Linked DNA regions of Homo sapiens: region 2 is linked to region 1. The links come from fine-mapping of genetic effects on plasma protein levels. A gene starts in region 1. The other region holds a variant in brackets. All regions are shown on one strand. Distances are between the middles of the regions.

What was found. PIP is the posterior inclusion probability: the model's chance that the variant is causal. Protein levels are from antibody-based Olink assays in UK Biobank. Linkage for the fine-mapping came from a reference panel and not from the study's own genotypes, which makes the PIPs less certain.
Region 2: its variant is fine-mapped to the plasma level of the OMP protein (UK Biobank, PIP 0.96).

What each region holds. Positions count from the first base shown.
Region 1 is chr11:77,099,606-77,104,968 of GRCh38, forward strand. It overlaps OMP (olfactory marker protein), which reads left to right and starts at 3,235. Exons shown (of 1, transcript NM_006189.1): 1 at 3,235-3,726. The coding sequence starts at 3,235. The coding sequence ends at 3,726. The region is part of intron 3 of CAPN5 (calpain 5); the gene reads left to right.
Region 2 is chr11:77,112,729-77,118,091 of GRCh38, forward strand. CAPN5 (calpain 5) reads left to right here. Exons shown (of 13, transcript NM_004055.5): 4 at 1-69; 5 at 1,514-1,706; 6 at 2,667-2,860; 7 at 3,498-3,575. Among named protein-coding and RNA genes, the nearest start is that of OMP, 13 kb to the left of the region's middle. RefSeq lists enhancers at 396-990, 991-1,586, 1,587-2,180. The variant G/C (reference allele first, on the strand shown) is at 3,449.

The DNA.
Region 1 (5,363 bases):
GCACTTGGCAGGCTGAGGCAGGAGAATCAGGCAGGGAGGTTGCAGTGAGCCGAGATGGCAGCAGTACAGTCCAGCTTCGGCTCCACATGAGAGGGAGACCGTGGGGAGAGGGAGAGGGAGACGGAGAGGGAGAGGGAGAGGGAGACGGAGAGGGAGACGGAGAGGGAGAGGGAGAGGGAGAGGGAGTTCCTTCTAGTTTTTTTTCCACTTGGTGTTAAAGAGGATTTTGCTTGTTTTGGTTTTTTTTTGAGTTGGAGTTTCGCTCTTGTCACCCAGGCTAGAGTGCAATGGTGCGATCACGGCTCACCGTAACCTCCACCTCCCGGGTTCAAGTGATTTTCCTGCCTCAGCCTCCTGAGTAGCTGGGATTACAGGCGCCTGCCACCATACCCGGCTAATTTTTGTATTTTTAGTAGAGATGGGGTTTCACCACGTTGGCCAGGCTGGTCTCAAACTCTTGACCTCAGGTGATCCACCCGCCTCGGCCTCCCAAGGTGCTGGGATTACAGGCGTGAGCCACTGTGCCCAGCCTTGTTTTGTTTTTTTATATGCATTTTTGCAATTACATCTGCAAGTTTAGAGCTTGCTTTTCTCCTCTGTATTCATTGCTACATCCAGCCTTGGGTGGGTCCTCCCAAGGTGTCCGATGGCTGAGCAGAGGTCTGTGGACATCAGTGGGCCCTGTCCCCAGCTGCAGCCTCCTGCATCCTGCCTGCTCCCTTGCCCACAAGCCTCAGTCCACCCCCTCTGCCTCCTCCCCTCCCTCTTCCATTCCTTTTCCCCCCAGGCCTTCCCTTGGCTCCCACCGCTCGTCCCTCCCGCCCAGTCTGTGAGACTCAAGCTCCCGTCACAACTGCCCCCCACCTTCGGCCTCCAGAAGGTCGGTGCCCCTCTGCTCAGACCCTCCCCAGGGGTCTTGTGCCCCTAAATCCTCATCAGTAGAAGTTGATCACACCCACCTCATCCCATCCCTCAGGATCCAGAAATAGGGGATCCTCCTTCCCAGTGCTGCCCGGACCACAGCGTCCCCATACAAGCACTTGGCTCCTTCACTGGACTCCCACCCTCAGCCCACTGTGTTGCTGTCTCCACCAGCCAGCTGCCCTGGCCAGTCACCTGGGCACAAAGGGCTTGGTTCCTGCCATTTTCCAGCCCATTCTACCCCAAGAACTGCTGTGTCCCAGGCTTTACTGTGTCCATGTGGCTAACGTCCTGCCCTCTCGCTTTGCCCTTTTACCCTTGTCTTAGTTCTCCATCTCCTTTCTATCAGCCTTCACCTTCAGCCGCCTCAGTCACCTGCTGCCATGCCACAGCCCGGGCCCGGAACTGCTCTCCCTGGAGGTCTTCAGCCAAAGGCCCAGTCTCTCTGACCTCACCTTCCAGCCATCTTGCTCACTTCATTTTGGCCCTGGCCAGTACCTGTGTACTGTCTCCCCACCTGCCCACCTTCCTCTTGGCCTTGGGCTTGTGTCCCGTGGTCCATCACATCACCTGTCCCTTGTCAGTGTCATTCACTCATTCATCCGTTCATTCATTCATTCATTCGATCATTCGTTCATTCATTCAACAAGCATTTCTGAGGCCTCTGTGTGGCAGGCCCCGTTCTGGTTGCTGGCCTAGAGTAATGACAAGACACACTTCCTACCCTCTCAGGACTGTGTGTCACAGGCAAAAACTGAGCAACTCAACAAATAAAAAGCAGAATGTGGTGCTGGGAAGGTTAGAAACAGCTCCCCCATGTGGAGGAAAGGGAAGCCTCCCATGGTAGTTCCTTAGCCAAGTTGTTCCCCTCTCCCCTGCCCCTCCAGCTACAAAGCAAAAGGTTCTGTGAGGATCAGGCAGTTTGACATCTAGCTGTATGGTTCTCTCAAATACCCTTGGGGGAATTTCTGCCAATGACCCCCAGAACTGACCCCAGGGCTTGCAGTGTGGTTTTAACAGGACCGGGTATTCTGTCTCCCTTGGTGCCCCTCTGCTGTTCAGGTAGCCCAGGATCCCACTGATTGATTAGCCACCATCTCACAATTGACCGTGCTTGTGGTCCACTAGACCCTTCAGATTGTTTTCCGTTGTGATACCTTGGCCTTGACTCTGTCCTCTTTTCTGTGTGTGGCGTGTTGTGGCGACGGCCGCTCCCCAACTCCCATCCCCACTCTCTCCCCAACTCCGGCTCCACTCACACTCCAGTTCTTTCATTTCCCCAGTATAAAGGCTGAGCTTCTGGTTCCGCCCCGGGCCCTGGGGATATAAACATTTGCCAGATTCTTCCTCGGCCCCTGGGGGAAACTGAGGATTAATTCAGGTGGAGTAAGTGGTGGGATTTGGGTAGAAGTGAAGCCTTGTCCTGTTGTGGCCATGGTGCAGGGCTGCGGCACAGCCAGCCATCAGTGTCATCCGGGTCAGTAATGCTCAAGGCACAGTCCCTGGCCCAGCAGCATGTCACCTGGGAGGTGGTTAGGAATGCAGATTCTCAGGCCCACAGAGCCCTGATAAACCAGGAGTTCTGGGAGGGGGTCCAGCAATCTGTGTGTTAAGTCCTGAGAGTGAGTCTGATGCTCACTCAAGTCTTGAGAACCACGGGTCTGGGTGAGAGATACGGTAGCTGGGCTGAGATCCTGTCAATGGGACTGGAGGGGAAGGGTCCCGGGGTGTTTGGGAAGCAGAATCGACAGGCTTTGGTGATTGGGTGTGGAGGAGTGAGAGGGAGGCGGGCGTCAGGGGTAGCTCCAAGGTTTAACTTAGGTGACTTCAGATCTCCAATCACCAAGCCCTCTCTGGTCCTGCCTTCTCCACCTGCTCCTGCGGGTCTTGCATCTTCTCCTGTGTACCTCCAGTGAGGAGTGGTCCCCACCACCCTCCCCATCAGTGCACTTACGAAGTGCTCTCATCTTCACAAACAAGCCAGCACCCAGCCCAGCCCTGGTAGTCAGGGCGGTTGCCACAGCAATTGACATCAGCGACCTGGTCCCCAAGGAACCTGCCACCTTCCGCCTGCCTGCAGGGCCTGCATTATCGCTTCTGCGGGGACTGGAGTGGAGGCAGATGGGGACTCCCACCCCTGACACACACCCCATTTTGAGAACTGAGTGGGGCTGGGAAGAGCCAGTGGCAAAGGGAGGGGAAGAGGGAAGGGCAGAAAGTAGGTGGGGCCCCCCTTTGGTGGCCTCTTCTCTCCACGGCCCCAGGCTCCAGCCCACTTGGGTCCTTGGCGTTGGTGGCAGCAGCACTTGGGCCATGGCGGAGGACAGGCCGCAGCAGCCGCAGCTGGACATGCCGCTGGTCCTGGACCAGGGCCTGACCAGGCAGATGCGGCTACGCGTGGAGAGCCTGAAGCAGCGCGGGGAGAAGCGCCAGGATGGGGAGAAGCTGCTGCAGCCAGCGGAGTCTGTGTACCGCCTCAACTTCACCCAGCAGCAGCGGCTACAGTTCGAGCGCTGGAATGTCGTGCTGGACAAGCCGGGCAAGGTCACCATCACAGGCACCTCGCAGAACTGGACGCCTGACCTCACCAACCTCATGACACGCCAGCTGCTGGACCCCACTGCCATCTTCTGGCGCAAGGAGGACTCGGATGCCATAGATTGGAATGAGGCCGACGCCCTGGAGTTTGGGGAGCGCCTGTCGGACCTGGCCAAGATCCGCAAGGTCATGTACTTCCTCGTCACCTTTGGCGAGGGTGTGGAGCCCGCCAACCTCAAGGCCTCCGTGGTTTTTAACCAGCTCTGACAGCAGCTGCCAGCTGCTGCTCTCCTCTAGCCCACCTGTGCTCTCCCCTGCCCCTGCCACTTTCCCCCCTGTATTTTTGGGGCCATTATTCTCGCTGCTCAGCCTGTCCTCTGCTTGCCCAGAGGCCCCCTGAGTCCCACACCTTTCCTCCTCTGCTTCTCCCTGGGGCCAGCACTCCAGCTCACAGGAAGAAGATTCTGAGGCTCCATAGCCTAGAAGCTGGACTGGCTGCTGCATTGCTATAGACGATAGAGGCCTACTAGGGGCCAGTGTGCATGGACAGTGAGGCCAGGGCCATCTGCCTTCTCTCTGCTTCATTGTGGGAGAGAGAGACTGAGAAAGACCAAGAGAGACACAGAGACAGAGATTGAAAAACCCAGCATCCACTTCCTCCAGAGTCAGGGAGACAGAGATGATGGGGCGTCTCCACGGGGAGTCCAGCAAGCCGGCATTCACTGCTCCCTGGCCTTGGTGCCCTTTGCCGGAGCCTGTGTCTGGGCTGCTGGTCCCATAACACGTCGACAACCCTCAGGATATGGGGCAGGGTTGCTGCAGGGGTGGATTTGGGCAGTGGAGAGTGGCTGGCACCCTGGAGGCTGTGTAGGCCCAGCTGTGGCTCTTCTGGGCCTGACTTCAGGGTGGAGAAGTGAAGGGGGAGGTTACACAGAGATCTGTCTCTACGCACACATATCCATGAGACAGAGTGTGCTGTATTCATATGGATGTATTCTAGAGGTCTATTCCTACCCTAGGAACAAGTGCAGTTTTAGATTATCTGTTCATCATTGCTGCTGGTTCAAGGATGGCTCTTAACAGGGGCCTGGTCCGGATGACCTTGGCCTGGGGGCTTGCTGAGCTAGGAGACTGCAGTTCAGATAGTGAAACAGGGAGTGGATTAGTAAAGGGGGTTCCCTTTGCCTTGAGGGAAGTTGGAGCTGGAGAGAGTGGATTCTCCAGGGCCTCAGGTATCCCCTGCTGGGGAGTCAGGCTCTTTAGAGCTTGCAGGTCAGGGAAGGCAAGTGCTTCGTCCTGACATAGCATCTGTTGGCATTTCTTGGGCTTCTTCAATGCAGCTGAGGGGGGCAGGGCGAAGGCGTGGTGGGCAGTTACGACGGCTGATAGTCCCAAGTGGGCTGCAGGCGGCAGTGGTGTGACGGCAGAATGGTAACCTCTGGGGTCATTGGATGCAACTCACTCACCAAACAGATGGGGAAACTGAGGCACAATTTTCATCAGATTCAGTTCTGACTCTTAGCCTCATTCCCCTTCGCATTGCGCAGTCCCAGAGAGCCCCCCCTTTTGGGGGAGTGCCTGACCTGCACCTAACATCAGCCAAGTACAGCTAAGCCACTGTCCCCAGCACCCTGACTTAAGGCCAGCCCTGTGTTTTGTCCTCAGCCAGTCAGGGATGTGTCCAAGACATTTCCCCTCATGAAGCAAAGCTGTCAAGGAACTTGCGGCTCTGGAACAGATGCACTGAGGGCCAGAGGGTCAGGGCCATCCCCTGTGGCTGGGGCTGCCGGGAGGGTGAGCCCCACCTCGGAGGTGTGCAGGCTGGAGCAGCATGCTGGAGCTGAGATTCTGTGGGTGAGAGAGTGGGAGAGTGTCTGTGGGCTGAGCACTGGTCCTTTCTGACT
Region 2 (5,363 bases), 13 kb after region 1:
GCTCATCTACTGCCACTCCAACTCCCGCAATGAGTTTTGGTGCGCCCTAGTGGAGAAGGCCTATGCCAAGTAGGTGCCAGCAGCAGGCAGGTGGGTGGGAGGCCCAGACGGGGGTGGCACCGGATGGGCTCCTCGTGGTATTCCGTTAGCCAGGGCTTTAGGCACAGAGAAGTGAGGGGCTGGTGCAGGCACGCAGCAGGCTCAACCGCCAGGCCTGAGGGCATAGTCAGCTGAGCCTGTGCTGGGTGGGGTGGAGGCCTGGGCCCTGTAAGGAGAGGAATGTTGGTTACTCCCATTTTAGGGGGAGAAGACTGAGGCCCAGGCAACATCCTGTAGGTAGCTGGGGGCAGAGGCAGCACTCACATTTAGGACCATTCTCGAAGGTTCATGCTGCCATGCCCTGCCTGGGGCCTTGGTTGGGGAAGTGGTAACTGAGCTGGGGCCTGGTTGTGCAGGGTGGGCCACGTGCCTGCCTTCCCCGCCTGCTGGGCCTCCCTCTTGTCCACCATCCGCCTCTGCCTGGCTGACTGTCCATTCTGTCTTTGCTGACCCCTCCTTCTGCTCCGTGCCTTCTGCTTCTGTGTCCCCAGTGCCCAACACAGAGCCCAGCATAGAATGGGCACAAGCAAAGTTTTGCTGAGCTGTGGGGAACCCTGGGGAAGAGTGACTCGCGCAGGCCGTTGCAGGGCAGGGATACGCCTAGGCCAGGAGGGAGGAGGGAGGAGGGGCAGTGGGGTCAGAGGCCAGCCTCGCCAGCTCTAGGTGAGCCACTCTCTGGTTCCTCCTGCTAGGCCCATTTGTCAATCTTGCTGAAAAAATGTGTGTGTAGGGGCAGGAGCAAGGAGAGAGAGAGATAGAAAACAAGAGAAAGGGGGAGAGAGGAAAAGGAAAGACAAAAACTCCCAACATCAAAAACCCAAGAAAACACATTGGCAGGTTCCACTTTCAATCCTAAGAAAGGAAAGCCAGCCCCCTGGTGGCCACTGAGTCTCCACCACCTGGATGCAGGTCGACCCAGTGGCCTTGGTTGTTTTTTGTTTTTTGAAAAAACACAGTTTCATTGTGGTAAAATAGACAAAACATAATGCTTCTCATTTTAACCATATGGAAACATACAATTCAGTGGCATTCATTATGATCACAGTGCTATGGGCCATCACCACTATCTATCCCCAGAACCTTCTCATCATTCCCAGCAGGAGGTCTATACCCATCCGACAGTAACTCCTTCCCCTCCCCCTGACCATTGTTGGCACTTTGGAAAAGAGTTGCTTTTTTTTTTTTGGACAGCTGATTTTTTAAGATTGAGCCACTAAGGCTTAGGGGAATTTAAGCCTTATATGTTGGCCCGAGTGTTAAGAACTGGGTTCCAGTGTTGGCTCCGCCGTGGCCTGCTGCGTGACTGTAACAGGTTGTTTGACCCCTCTGAGTTTCAAAAACCTCCCCTATGAGGTAAAGGATGCAGCCTGGCTGGGGAGCATGAGCTGGGAAGTCTTTCCACATTGCTTCCCAGACTGGCAGGCTGTTACCAGGCCCTGGATGGAGGCAACACAGCAGACGCACTGGTGGACTTCACGGGTGGTGTTTCTGAGCCCATCGACCTGACCGAGGGTGACTTTGCCAACGATGAGACTAAGAGGAACCAGCTCTTTGAGCGCATGTTAAAGGTGCACAGCCGGGGCGGCCTCATCAGTGCCTCCATCAAGGTGAGAACACGGCAGTCCCCAGAGGCGACCCCTCCCCTTCACCCTCGCTGACTGAGATGGGAGACAACTGTGACATCCCACGCTCAGGTCAGCTCCTACGTATTCAGACCCTCAGCCTCGTGGGGGAGGGGAGAAGTTGGAAGGTGCAACCCCCTGCCCAGACCCTCTAGGCTGTGAAAAGCCTTTCCCGCACTGTTCAACCAAAACTTCTTTTCTGATCCTCTTGGGTTATGAACGTCTGTGCATCTGAGGGTGGTCCTGATTTCATTACTTGCTCGTGTTTTGGATGAGAAAGCTGAGGCCCAGTGAAAGCCAAGTTCAAACCCAACTTTAGCAGACCCTGTGCTGTGCTGGTAAACTGCCTCCAGCAAAGTAAAAAGCCCCGGTTTGTAGCATTTGCTAATTACTGTGGTGTAAATACTCCCACCATGGCTGATTTCCAACTACCCACATTTAACAACCAGCTATTAACAATATTCCTGGCCGGGCATGGTGGCACATGCCTGTAATCCCAGCTACTCGGGAGGCTGAGGCAGGAGAATTGCTTGAACCCGGGAGGCAGAAATTGTGGTGAGCCAAGATCGCGCCATTGCACTCCAGCCTGGGCAACAAGAGCAAAACTCCATCCAAAAAAAAAACAAAAAACAAAACAATGTTCCTGAATATTTAACAATTCCTGGAATATTTAACAATTTAAATATTCCCGAATATTTAACAACAGCTGAGCCAGTGCACGTGGGCCCCAGCATTCCCCTGGGCTGACCCACTATGGGCACCTTCCTTTACTGAGACTGCTGCCCATGGGGGTTTTAAAGCTCTGTGAACACAGCACTGCCCCATGACTGCAATTCCCATCCCATCCTGTAGGTCCCGTGCAGCCTCCTAGCCCTCCAGCACCTGAGTCCCTGGTCTGGGTTCCAGTGTGGCCCTGCCTCTCTGAGCAACTGTGTCCCTCCACAGGCAGTGACAGCAGCTGACATGGAGGCCCGCCTGGCGTGCGGCCTGGTAAAGGGCCACGCATACGCCGTCACTGATGTGCGCAAGGTGCGCCTGGGCCACGGCCTACTGGCCTTCTTCAAGTCAGAGAAGTTGGACATGATCCGCCTGCGCAACCCCTGGGGCGAGCGGGAGTGGAACGGGCCCTGGAGTGACACGTGAGGCCTGGGGATGGGGGTGCAGGCACAGGGCATGAGGGCTTGGACAAGGACGGGTGGGCTTCTTGGAGGAGTTGGCACTGGGGCTGGGCCTTGAAGGATCTGGGGGAGGATGACACTAGGAACGAAGAAGGGAGAATTACTTTGCAGTGGTTGTATGGGGTGATGGATTGAGCACAAGAAAGGCCTGGGGCTGGAGGCCATCAGGGGTGTAGAGACCAGCTTGGTGAGTGGGTGCGGGAGGGGAGCAGGGAGGGAGGCCACAGCCCTGAGCAAATGGGGGACTCCTCTGTGCTTGGCTTATGGCCCTGGTAAGGCCAAGATGGGAGTGGAGCCCAGGTGCTAAGTGAAGGAGCCCTCTTCACTGGGGGTCGCACCCCCCTTCCCCCCAGTCTGCAGCTTTACTTTCAGACCTCCCAGCCCCTGTCATGGTGGCAGCTCACGGTCCCTTGTGGGAGGAGACAGGCAGGGCTTCCTGGAGAGGGGCTGGGCATGGCCTCAGTGCCCCTGGCCACACCGTGCCGCTGGAGGCCTGGTGCAAGACTGCCCCTCGTGCCTCCTCGCCTTTGCCAGACAGATTCTGGTGGG[G/C]CTGCCTCTTAGACAGCTCCCTTTCTCCTCCCCGGCCCTGACACCCCAGCTCGGAGGAGTGGCAGAAAGTGAGCAAGAGTGAGCGGGAGAAGATGGGTGTGACCGTGCAGGACGACGGTGAGTTCTGGTGAGTGTGTATGTGCCCTGGGCGTCCGGGGCTGAGGGGGCTTCCCACGGGCCTGGCGGGGAGCACCAGGTGGGGAGTCAGGAGCCAGGCCTCTCCTGCATGCCCCATCATCAATTTGCTGTGTGGCCTTGGACAAGTCACACCATCTCAGAGCCTGTTTCCTCCTCTGTAAAATTAGTTGGGCAGTACCAGGCCCTTTCATCCCCACAGTCCCCTCTGCCGAACTGAGGGGTCCTGGAGCCGCTGTGGCACCCAGACCGAGCCTTTGGCATGCAGGTCAGGGAGCCGTCTAAGAGGTGGGCCCACCAGGATCTCCCCGGCAAGGGTAAGGAGGCATGAAGCACAGTCCAGCACCAGCAGTATGGTGTGGCCAGGGGCACTGGGGCTATGCCCAGCCCCTCTCCAGGAAGCCCTGCCCTCAGCCTGCCTCCAGGGGCCCTCTGGCAGCCTGATTTCTGAAATTAGGTAGCAGAGGCTCCTAGAGGAACTAGCTTCTAAGCTGAGACTTGAGGTACAGAGTAGGCCTTGGTGGGCAAGGAAGAGGACGTGGCTCAGAGGTGAGAGAACACAGCTGTGTTTGAGAAGGGAGCTAAGCAGGTACATGGGTGAGCTGGGAAGATGACAGCAGCTCAGCTTAAAGAGCCCAGTAATTGGCTGGGTACAGTGGCTCATGTCTATAATCCCAGCACTTTGGGAGGTCAAGGTAGAAGGATTGCTTGAGTCCAGGAGTTTGAGACCAGCCTGGGCAGCATAGTGGGACCCCATCTCTACAAAAATGAAAAATTAGCTGGGTGTGATGATGTACCCCTGTAGTCTCAGCTACTCTAGAGGCTGAGAGGGGAGGATTGCTTGAGCCCAGGAGGTTGAGTTTATAGTGAGCCATGATCGCACCACTGCACTCCATCCTGGGCTAAAGAGCAAGACCCTGTTTCAAAAACAAAAAGAAAAACCCCAGTAGTAATAAAAGTTCATCCTGCATTCATCCAGCCTGCATGAGTCCTGAATGTGGGCTAGGCTCAGTGTCACCCTTCAGCAGAACCTGATATGGAAACTCAGTCCCTTCCTGGAGGGGTATTGGCATCCTGTGTGTGCTGGATTCTGTCAGGGCCCCCAGGCAGACTGGGGGCAGATGGCAGTGGTCCTGGCACCCAATGATGAACCCTTCTGCAGGTGTCAGGTCAGCTGCTGCAGGAGGCCACCCAGGCCACTTTGCCAGTCTTGCTCAGGAGTCAGCAGATAAAAACACGGCAGAGCTCCTTGCCTTTAGAAAGAGTTTCTTCCAAAGGCCTTTCTCTTACATGTTCACGGTTAATTCACTGCCCCCTGCCCCCACCAGCTCCCTGGAGGCGTTCACAGTGTGCAGTGACCATAGCAACACCCTGGCCACCGCAGCAGGCTCACCATGGGGTTCCCACCATCCACTTACTCAGGCCTCTCAACAGCCATGGAAGATCCTGGATGCAGATGTGCTTTATAAACTGTACAGGGCAGCAGACAGTAGTTATTAACACCATTCACAATAGTAACAGCCAGCGTTTGCCAGTGCGTGCTCTGTCAGCCGAAAGTTGCACTGCCTGCTTTGATTGCATTACCTAATTCCTTCACTAGCTCTGAGATGGGCACCTGCTGTTAGATTCAGCCTCATTTTACAGGTGAGGAAACAGGTCAAAAGAGAGGTTAAGGGTCTGTGCAATGCCATGCCTGTGCCCTTGTGTGGGCTTAGCTCCCCTCTCAAAGCCAGCTGTGTTCTCTCACCTCTGGGCCATATGGACATATTAGGTTGTTGGG